2 separate regions of the Homo sapiens genome follow, and region 2 is linked to region 1. Evidence: fine-mapped expression QTL. A gene starts in region 1. The other region holds a variant in brackets. All regions are shown on one strand. Distances are between the middles of the regions.

Region 1 (5,000 bases):
GAGATCACGCCATTGCACTCCAGCCTGGGCAACGAGAGCGAAACTCCATCTCAAAAAAACAAACAAAACAGCAACAACAACAAAAACAAATTAGCTGGGCGCGGTGATGGGCTCCTGTAATCCCAGCTACTTAGGAGGCTGAGGCAGGAGAATTGCTTGAACCTGGGTGGCGGAGGTTGCAGTGAGCTGAGATCACACCACTGCACTCCAGCCTGGGCGACAGAGTGAGACTCTGTCTCAAAAAACAAACAAACAAACAAACAAAAAAACCTGCCAGTTGTGACTATGCCCCTATCCCTCATGGCTTCAACAGAACCTGCCACTTTAAAGTCAACAAAATCACCTTTATCAATGTTTAAGTCACATAACCAGCATAATTAGTCAGAGGTTTCTGCTACTTTATTTCAATCTATAGTTGATGTGCATTGTGGAAAATCTGTGCTTATAAATACTAGCCATAACAAAATATTAGAAGCTGAGAGTCTCTGGGAGATGCAACTGGCTTTTTAATGCACGTCTCCATCCCTCACCACAGAAGTACACAGCTATCCTTTTCTTAGATCTCTTCAGGGGAGATCTATCCCTCTTTTCTTCATTGCATTATCTCTAAACCTTACAGGAGGAAAAGGTGCCTACCTGACATCTGTGACATCTCTTCTCATGCTCTTGGGAAAAAAGCTTTTGGAATTTGGACACAGCTATTAAGTTACTCCTCAGTGGCCAGCCGCGATGGCTCACGCCTGTAATCTCAGCCCTTTGGGAGGCCGAGGCGGGCGGATCACGAGGTCAGGAGATCGAGGCCATCCTGGCTAACACGGTGAAACCCCGTCTCTACTAAAAATACAAAAAATTAGCCGGGCGTGGTGGCGGGAGCCTGTAGTGCCAGCTACTCGGGAGGCTGAGGCAGGAGAATGGCGTAAACCCAGCAGACAGAGCTTGCAGTGAGCTGGGATGGCGCCACTGCACTCCAGCCTGGGCGACGGAGCGAGACTCCGTCTCAAAAAAAAAAAAAAAAAAAAAGTTACTCCTTAATTTGTTGAATCTTTGTGCCAAAAGGAGCTGAACCAGTGTAGGTGGAGACAAAGGAAGCAGCATAAATGTCTAACTTATAACTCCCCAGGAAAACGAGAAGAGGAAAAATGAGACACTCCGGTCCCGCTCTGTTCCTCATCCCCCGTTTACAAACCTTACACCTGGCCCACACTCAGTAACAACAAAGACATCTATCACTTTCAGGCCGAGGTCCTGTCTCCAAAATTACTGGCCTCTGCTCACAGTTCTTAAAAGTTTGCTGAGAAAAAAAAAAAGAAAGAAAGAAAGAAAGAAATGTTCCTGGGCTGCAGTCGTGTAGCCCCAGGATGGGTTTACAGGAGGATGCCCCGGTTAAGCCCTGTGCCGCCCCCACCTCCCGCTGGAGACTCACACACAGCTCCCCGCCAGTCCCACCGGTGACAGCCACACAAAGGCAGGGTCACAAGCACACCGACCACCCCACAGCCCAGATTCGGCCCCAGACACACACTCACAAGGGCACGTGATCACGTGCGTGGTCACATGGACCGGCCCACTCAGAACACACTCACAAAGTCACACCAACCAAGGCAGCCACGCGCCACACACACACACCTACAACCCCGCATACCGCACACCCAGCCGCTTCCCAGGGCTTCGCCCACCCTCACCTGCCGTGGCCGCCCCCACGTCCCTTCCCCTCCTTCAGGAGGCCGCTCTTCGCTCCAGTACGAGCGCGGGCCGTGGAGGCGGCTGGGCCCGGGTCGGGGCGGGCGGCGGAGCACTCGGGACCCACGGGCACAGCAGGCTGCGCGGTGCGTGCGGGAGGCCGGCCTCTGAGGGGGCGGGGCGCGTGGCCGAGCGAGCTTGGGCCGCCGCGCTCCCCCCGCCCGACCGCCGCTCAGCTGGCGCGAGACTCCCGCTTCCGGGTTCTCAGAGGGCGGGGCCACGTCGCGAGGAAGGGGCGGTGCTGCGTGGCCCCGGCGGTCGCCACGGCGACGGGCGCGGGGGGAGGCTCCGTGGGATGCTTGGCTGCGGCTGGCGTGAGGAGAGGGCTGAGTTACGTCTGGGTCAGCCTTAGTTCTGCCCTACGTACCTAGGAGGAGGAGGAGGTGGAGGAGGCGCCTGGCCCCTTGGGACCTGCTTCTTCTTTCAGTTCGCGTTTTCTCTGTCGTGTACAGCTTTGGAGGGACACCTTTGGGTTCCAGACTTTGATGAACACAACTTTGTATACTCTTTTCTTAGGAACATTTTTTTTCCTTTGGCACAACCGTAGACGCTCTCCGTAGTCCTCCACTCAAAGCCTCCGCTTCCTTTTTGACGTTCTGGGGATTTCTGGGAACATACGCCCACCCATCTTCCTGTTCCTTCATCACTTTTCCCTTAAAATCAGAGAGAATATTAATACATTTGTAATCATTGTTCTTAAGGTGTTGCAGACGTCACGTCTTAAGGTGTTCCAGACTTCACGACTCCTTTTTTATTAGTAAAATATTTCTGAAATTATGATAAGGTGAATAACATGTAAATCTCCTTGTTTTGAATTTTTTTTTTAGGGATCCTGCAACAAGGTCCTGTTGAAAGTGCCTCTCTCTAATATGTTTTAGGGAAAGCTTGTACCCTGTTTTAGGGCCTGTAGACTTTGCCTTTACCTAGGCAACTGTTTATGGGATTAAGGTCAGGGAAGATTCCAACTAAATTGCATCCTACTTAGTTATCACTTCTGTCCCCTGGCCCAGGAGCCTTGGGTTCCACTCTAGAACTTGGACAAATCCCAAAAGCATTTTCCAAAAGCACGGTGACATACTTACCTTTTTCTTTCTTTCTTTTTTTCTCTAAATCATTTCTTTCGGGGTTGCAACTCAGTCGCAGGAATTCATCTTTTATTGTAAGCACCACATAGATGTATAGAGCACGTTTCCGTGGAGTATTTTAAGTTGGGGGCCTTTTCTCCAACATTTGGAATCGTTTAATGGGTGGAATAACTTGCAAACTACTGGTTGTCTCTGAAACTGGTTATGGATATTCATTACATTAGTTGTCTATTTTCCCAGGTGGTCTCGAAGCTTCAATCTAGAGCAAAGGGAATAGAGTGATTCCACCAGTCCATTAGCACATGATTAGCCCATAAATAATAGGTACTAAATGTATATTGATTGTAATCCCAGCACTTTGGGAGGCCAAGGTGGACGGATCGCTTGATTGAGCCCAGGAGTTCGAGACTAGCCTGGGCAACCTGGGAGACCCTGTCTGTACAAAAAAATACAAAAATTAGCCGGGCGTGGTGGCGCATGCCTGTAATCCCCGCTACTCAGGAGGCTGAGATGGGAGAATCTGTTAAGCCCAGATGTCGAATCCACTGCACCACATCCTAGGTGACAAAGCGAGAGACCTTGTCTGCTCCCAACAAAAAACTATATTGAATGAATTAATGAGTGGAATAAATAAATCTATCCCCATTTCCACATTTGTTCCTAAAGCTGTATTCCTTAGACCCCATCCCTAGACCCCATTTAGTAACAGCTTTAATGAGACCTAATCTATGGATATACCCGTATGTTAAAAGTCATTGTTCTGTTAGTGTGGTAGTAAACTTTGACAATTGACAATAAAAAAAAATCACTATGTAGATATGTTTTGTTACATATCAACTTTTATTACAATGTAGACCAATCCAAAAATAATAAATGTTTTACTTCTTTCAGGAAGGGAAACCATGGTCATGTTTGTGTCCTCAGTTGTTCCATAACACATGGCAAGCACATTGTCCCTTTCCTAATCCCAACAAAGAACATTTAATATCTGTGAATTCCAGCTGAATTGTAATGCACAAATTCAGGCAGCAAACTTTTGATTCAGGCAGGTCCCAGTGCAGGCTGACCTGGTAGACATGGCTGTAAGGATTTGCAGCTGTTGTGGCTGGGGTCTGCCAGATGGTTCCCACAGCACCAATTCATCTGTGAGAATCTCACAGAAAAACTGGAATGTTCACAAAATATGCTGTGAACACCAAGCAAAGTAAACAGATGGCCAGCTGGCTCTCAGAATTACCCAAACCCGGGCTCTGTCCCTCTTAATTTATCTTTTCACAGGATAATATTTGTTTGAAAACACACAAAATAATCCCAGATCCAGAAATATCCCTATGCATGTGTATACATAAGTGAATGCACTTTTTTTTTTTTTTGAGACGGAGTCTTGCTCTGTTGCCAGGCTGGATTGCAGTGGCACATCTCAGCTCATTGCAACCTCCGCCTCCCGGATTCAAGCTATTCTCCTGCCTCAGCCTCCCGAGTAGCTGGGTCTACAGGTGCCTGCCACCACACCCAGCTAATTTTTGTATTTTTAGTAGAGACGGGGTTTCACCATGTTGGCCAGGATGGTCTCGATCTCTTGACTTCGTGATCCTCCCGCCTCGGCCTCCCAAAGTGCTGGGATTACAGGCGTGAGCCACTGCGCCCAGCTGTGAATGCACTTTTTAAAATGTTTGGAGAGGTATGTACCAAGCAGCTAAGTGATTACCTCGGAGGAGGAACTGGGGATGGAGGGAGTGGTGAAGAACTTTGACTTTGGATTTAATAGTTGAGTTTATATTAAAATGTATTCATATATTATCTGTGTGATCAAAATAATTAAAAGCAGCCAGGCATAGTGGCTCATACCTGTAATCCCAGCACTGAGGGAAGCCAAGGCGGGTGGATCACTTGAGGTCAGGAGTTCGAGACCAGCCTGGCCAACATGGCAAAACCCCCATCTCTACTAAAAATACAAAAATTAGCCGGGTGTGGTGGTGCACACCTGTAATCCCAGCTACTGGGGAGGCTGAGGCAGGATAATCACTTGAACCCACCTGGGAGGCGGCAGTTGCAGTAAGCTCAGATCATGCCACTGCACTCCAGACTGGGTGACAGAGTGAGACTCTGTCTCAAATAATAATAATATTAATAATAATTAAAAGCAACTATATTTCTGTAATTCCTCTGCTATAA
Region 2 (5,525 bases), 28 kb before region 1:
CAGAGTCTACTTTACCTTGCTAATTGTGACTCTCCTTGTTTCTAAAATGTATATTTAAATCACTTTTCCAATGGATATTTACTTACAGTTACTCCCTCCCTTTTCTTTGAGACGGAGTCTTCCTCTGTTGCCAGGCTGGCGTGCAGTGGTGCGATCTCGGCTTACTGCAGCCTCCGACTCCCTGGTTCAAGCGATTCTCCTCTTCAGCCTCCCAAGTAGATGGAATTACAGGCACATGCCACCACGCCCAGCTAATTTTTTTTTGTATTTTTAGTAGCGATGGGGTTTCAACATGTTGGCCAGGATGGTCTTGATCTCCTGACCTCGTGATCTGCCTGGGTTGGCCTTCCAAAGTGCTGGGATTGCAGGCGTGAGCCACTGTGCCTGGCCCCTTTTTAAGATATATACTGTACTTAAAACTATTCACATATAGTCTGCAGGTTTATATACTTAAAAAGTGCGAAGTCTTTCTCCTGTGGATCCCAAGATAACTTCTAGAAGCGGGTACAGGCCCTGGATCACATCATGTATCAAAATGAACCCATAAAACTCCCAGGTTAAGAACTGAGGTGAAGGAGTCCCTGGCTCTTAGTGGAGGTTGCTCCCCGCATCTCTTCCTGTGTGCAGAGCTTCACTAAATGGTTACAGCCCCACTTCAGAGTTTCTGAAACTAGTCTGATTTCCACAACAGAGGTCCCTTAGTGTTCATGCACTGGCAAGTGACAAGATCAGACCTGTGTGTGGACCACACAGAGGATGGGTGGGGGTGGGAGGAGATGGCTGGTGGAGCCAGTGAGGACTGTAGTAGTCTGGGCAAAAGATGCCAAGGCCTAACTTGTAGTGAGGAAGGCTCAAGTTTGCAGGCAAGTTGCTAGATCTCTGAGAGTCAGGGGATATAGGTGTAGTAGATGTGGAAATGCATTGCCCGGACCCCCTTCTTCCAGGAAGGCCTTTCCATCCAGCTGCAGGAGTGAGCTGGGCAGATGGCCTCCAGCTGTCAGCCCTTCAGGGTCTGCCTCAGCTGCAGAGAGTTGCCCCACCCAACACCCTGCCCTCCCCAGGGCAGCTGCCTCTGGGAACTGAGCTACGCGGGAGCATAGAGACCCAGCCATTTTAGTCCTCCATGAAAATATTCCAGTGGGTGCTTCAAGCTCCTGCGTGCCCTACTGAGTTGGTGGGTACTTGATCGGGCCTGCATCACAGTTCAATTTCGCTCTCTGCCCAATCCATCTTCCCTTCACAGATGTTGTTTTTTTGTTTTGTTTTGGAGATTGAGTCTCACTCTGTTGCTCAGGCTGGAGTGCAGTGACACCATCTCAGCTCACCGTAACCTCTGCCACTCTGGTTCAAGTGATTGTCCTGCTTCAGCCTCCTGAGTAGCTGGGATTACAGGCACGTGCCGCCAGGTCTGGCTAATTTTTTTGTATTTTTAGTAGAGACTGGGTTTCTCCATGTTGGCCTGGCTGGTCTTGAACTCCTGACCTCAGGTGATCCACTCCCCTTGGCCTCCCAAAGTACTGGGATTACAGGTGTGAGCCACCACACCAGGCCACAGATGTTGATCCTTAATAAACATCTTGCACCCAAATTTTCATCTCTGCATCCGCTTCAGCCTGAGACATGGGGGTGGAGGAGTGAGTGGGGGTGGAGGGTCCAAGATGGCTGAGTTTCTAACTGGGGATTCCAAGAAATAGTGATGCCAGGACCTAAGAAAATGGGGCTAGAAGAGGAAGGGCAGGTTTGGGCAGTGGGGCCATGGGCATAGCTTTTGACTGGTTGCCTGTCGAAGGCTGAGATGCCTGTTGAAGGCTGGCCTAATAGGCCTGAGTACGCATTCAAGGCCAGTACTCAAAATTGATCAGGGCTGGCAATGACAACTTGCAGTCATCAGGGGGCAGAGCTGGGGAGTAGTTAAAGTTGTTAGACGGCTCTAGTAGCCTCAGACGCTACTAGTTAAAATGTCAAGCTTCGCCCTTATGGTTTACCAAGTGTTTCCATAACTCATGACTGTTGTCAAGCCACAGATAGAGAAGACAATGTGGCCCCTTTGTGGAAAGATCACTGGCTTTAGGGATGGTCAGATTCAAGGTGGCATCCCAGCTCCACCCCTTACTGCCTGACCCAGTCTCCAGGTCCTCACCTGTAAAGTCAGGATAATCAGGGCTGTATTGGGGATGAAGTCTAAGAAGGTATGGCCAACCCAATATTCTGAAACCTGGCACATAAAGGGAAAGAAGCACTGATGCTTATTTTTCTGTCTAAATTGTATCTCAGCGAAACCAAGCAGTCGATGAGGGCAAGTTTTTGTTTTTTTAAATCGGTAATTTCCAGTTAATAAATGCAGAAGGAATGATAAAAATTAATATTATCACTGACCTGCAACCCCTCATGGAATGATGCACCTGTGCAATGGTCAGCAGTGGCAGCTAAGCCAGCAGGGGACTTTCTCAGGACTGGATCAGGCTGGTGATGCCTGAACACACCCAGCAATCATAATAACTTAGACACAACCAGACAGATGCCTCCTGAGATGACGCGAGAGAAACACACAGCCCCATCTATGCAGTGTTCCTGCCAAAAAGATCGAGCTTGACCTGATCAAGCCTCTTGATGTAACTACCAGTTTACAGGAAATACCAGGGACAGAGAAACAAGTGGAAGGACACCATGAGGCCACAGTCAGCCAAATCTGGACTGTGGGGCAACTACAGGGCAAATGAACCTGTTTCTTCACTGAATATATGGCAAGAAAAAATAGAGGGAGGAGGAGCTTCCAGTTCAAAAGAGATCTAAGAGACAAAGTGTGGGCTTTATATGATTAGAACAAGTCACCTATAAAAAAAAATTTATGGAATAATTGTGAGTGACAACATTCACTGGATTATTAGACAATCCAGTGAAGGAATTATTGGTAAATAATTGAAGGAATTATTGGTAAATTTTTAAGTGTGATAATGGTATTAAGGCTGTATCTTAAAGGTACACATAGAAATATTTACAGATGAAATGACACAGCACCAGAAATGGCTTTAAAATAATTTAGTGATAGGAGCATGTGTGGAAGAAACGTGGGTAGGTTAAAAGATGAACAAGTCCGGGCATGGTGGCTCATGCCTGTAATCCCAGCACTTTGGGAGGCTGATGTGGGCAGATCACCTGAGGTCAGGAGCTCGAGACTAGCCTGACCAACATGGAGAAACCCCATCTCTACTAAAAATACAAAATTAGCCGGGCGTGGTGGTGCATACCT[G/A]TAATCTCAGCTACTTGGGAGGCTGAGGCAGAAGAATTGCTTGAACCCGGGAGGCGGAGGTTGCGGTGAGCCGAGATCACGTCATTGCACTCCAGCCTGGGCAACAAGAGCGAAACTCTGTCTCAAAAAAAAAAAAAAGAAAAGATGAACAAGACTGTCTGAGAGTTGATAATTTTTGAAGCTGGATGATGGGAACATCATTCATTATGCCATTTTCTCTACTTCATGTGGGTTTAAGCATTTTCACTCAGGGGAAAGAAGACGAGAAAAGTACCTGGCACACAGTAGCAGATCAATAAATGATAGCTTAGGGTTATTTTATGATGTGCAAACTGTACTTCAGGGAGATTAAGTAACTTACCCAAAGTCACACAGAATTGGCAACCATGACCTACTTCTCAGAAAGTCCTAGGCCTGTGTAGCCCAGTTGGGCAGCAACAATAATCACAAAAGCGACTCAGTTAAATTGAATTTTTATTCCAAATGACTAATATCTAGAAAGGCAGTAGCTAACACTCAAAACAATTTGTTTAAGTGTAAATTAAAAGCAGTTGATTTGCAGGAGAGCAAACAGTGGGGTAGTGGCCATGGCACTCTGATCATGGTTATATCCAAGAAAGCATAAAATAACCAATGTCCTGATATGCAATCTGGATGTGCAGCATTTACAGCAAACAACATAAAAAGAAAGAAAGAAGAATGGAAAAGAAAAGAAGAAAAAAACCACCACAAAGTCCCAAACCTCAGAAATTAACATTCACTTAAGAACACAGTGGTGAAGACTTTTGGTAGCAAAATTTGCACGGTTCTTAAAATGGGAGTCTTCAAAAGTACTTCTTCAAATTCAAAAGCTAAGAAAACCAAAGAGGGAACAGTTACACAGGCTTAGTGGAGATGCCGCCTGTCATGAAGATGACCATCAGTCCTACTTCCCAGACACAGTGAGAACCGGTGAGCCTGACGAACCTGAAGGAAAAGGCTGGCTGACGGGTGCTGATGCCACTGACTATACAAGAACACACCGGGTCAACTCATCATTGACAGCGAGAGACACACTACTGCTCCTCCTGGCTGATGCCAAGGCTGCCTTTCTGCACCTCAAGCTCCTCGGCACTGACCATTGATGGGTCAATGGCCGCGTATTTGGTTCCATGGAATTGCAGCAAATGTATCTGTTGAAATGCAGAATCATTATTTTATTTATTTTTTGAGCTGGAGTGTCACTCTTGTTGCCCAGGCTGGAGTGCAGTGGCACTATCTTGGTTCACTCCAACCTCCGCCTCCCGGGTTCACCCAATTCTCCTGCCTCAGCCTCCCGAGTAGCTGGGATTACAGGTGCCCGCCACCATGCCCAGCTAATTTTTGTATTTTTAGTAGAGACAGGGTTTCACCATGTTGGCCAGGCTGGTTTTGAACTCCTGGCCTCAAGTGATCCATCTGCCTCGGCCTCCCAAAGTGCCAGATTACAGGTGTGAGCCACTGCACCCTGCCAGAATCATTGTTTTAAATGGCTGCATTACAGAGTAAAATGTATACTGCCTTCTATAAAAAGTTTGGTAGGAAAACATCACCATAGTGGACAAATGTTTTATACTTCTAAAATTTACAGACTAAGACATACTAAATAGAGAAAAGTCAAACAATTTTTTGAAACCACATTTGGGATCTTTGTTCCTCACTCCCTGAGCAGTCTCCCTGAGTCCCTGCAGAGTCTCCTGAGACATCTTAGATGGTGCATGCTCATGAGATGTTTACCCTTCCCTTCTGCTGCTGTGAGTTAGGTCCTTCCAATCTTCTGCTACTGTGACTAGTGCTGCTATGATGAATATCTCTGGGCATCAAGTATTCCTGTTTAGGATCCTGTCTTCTATAAGGGGATGACAGGATCAAGGGATATGACTGGTTTTTGGGATTACAGGTGTGAGCCACCATGCGTGGCCAGGATATAACTGGTTTTTTAAGGCTCTTGATTCATCTTGCCAAACTGCCAGGGCACTCACCCCTCACTGCTATTCTATTATCCATTTAGTTAGAGTATGAAGGGATGGTGTTTGTTAGGGCTTTCTTTTCTTTTCTTTTTTTTTGAGACGGAGTCTTGTTCTGTTGCCCAGGCTGGAGTGCAATGGCGTGACCTCGGCTCACTGCAACCTCTGCCTCCAGGATTCAAGTGATTCTTCTGCCTCAGCCTCCCGAGTAGCTGGGACTACAGGTGTGCACCACCACGTCCAGCTAATTTTTTTTGTATTTTTAGTAGAGACGGTTTCACCATATTGGC

Evidence for each region.
Region 2: its variant is fine-mapped to the expression of SPG21 in whole blood (TOPMed, PIP above 0.99).

The regions. Positions count from the first base shown.
Region 1 is chr15:64,987,983-64,992,982 of GRCh38, forward strand. It overlaps SPG21 (SPG21 abhydrolase domain containing, maspardin), which reads right to left and starts at 1,932. Exons shown (of 9, transcript NM_016630.7): 1 at 1,683-1,932. RefSeq lists enhancers at 1,139-1,640, 1,641-2,140, 2,196-2,265, 2,306-2,365 and silencers at 1,369-1,663, 1,466-1,515, 1,636-2,125.
Region 2 is chr15:64,959,315-64,964,839 of GRCh38, forward strand. SPG21 (SPG21 abhydrolase domain containing, maspardin) reads right to left here. Exons shown (of 9, transcript NM_016630.7): 9 at 3,708-4,422. The coding sequence ends at 4,306. Among named protein-coding and RNA genes, the nearest start is that of SPG21, 28 kb to the right of the region's middle. The variant G/A (reference allele first, on the strand shown) is at 3,251.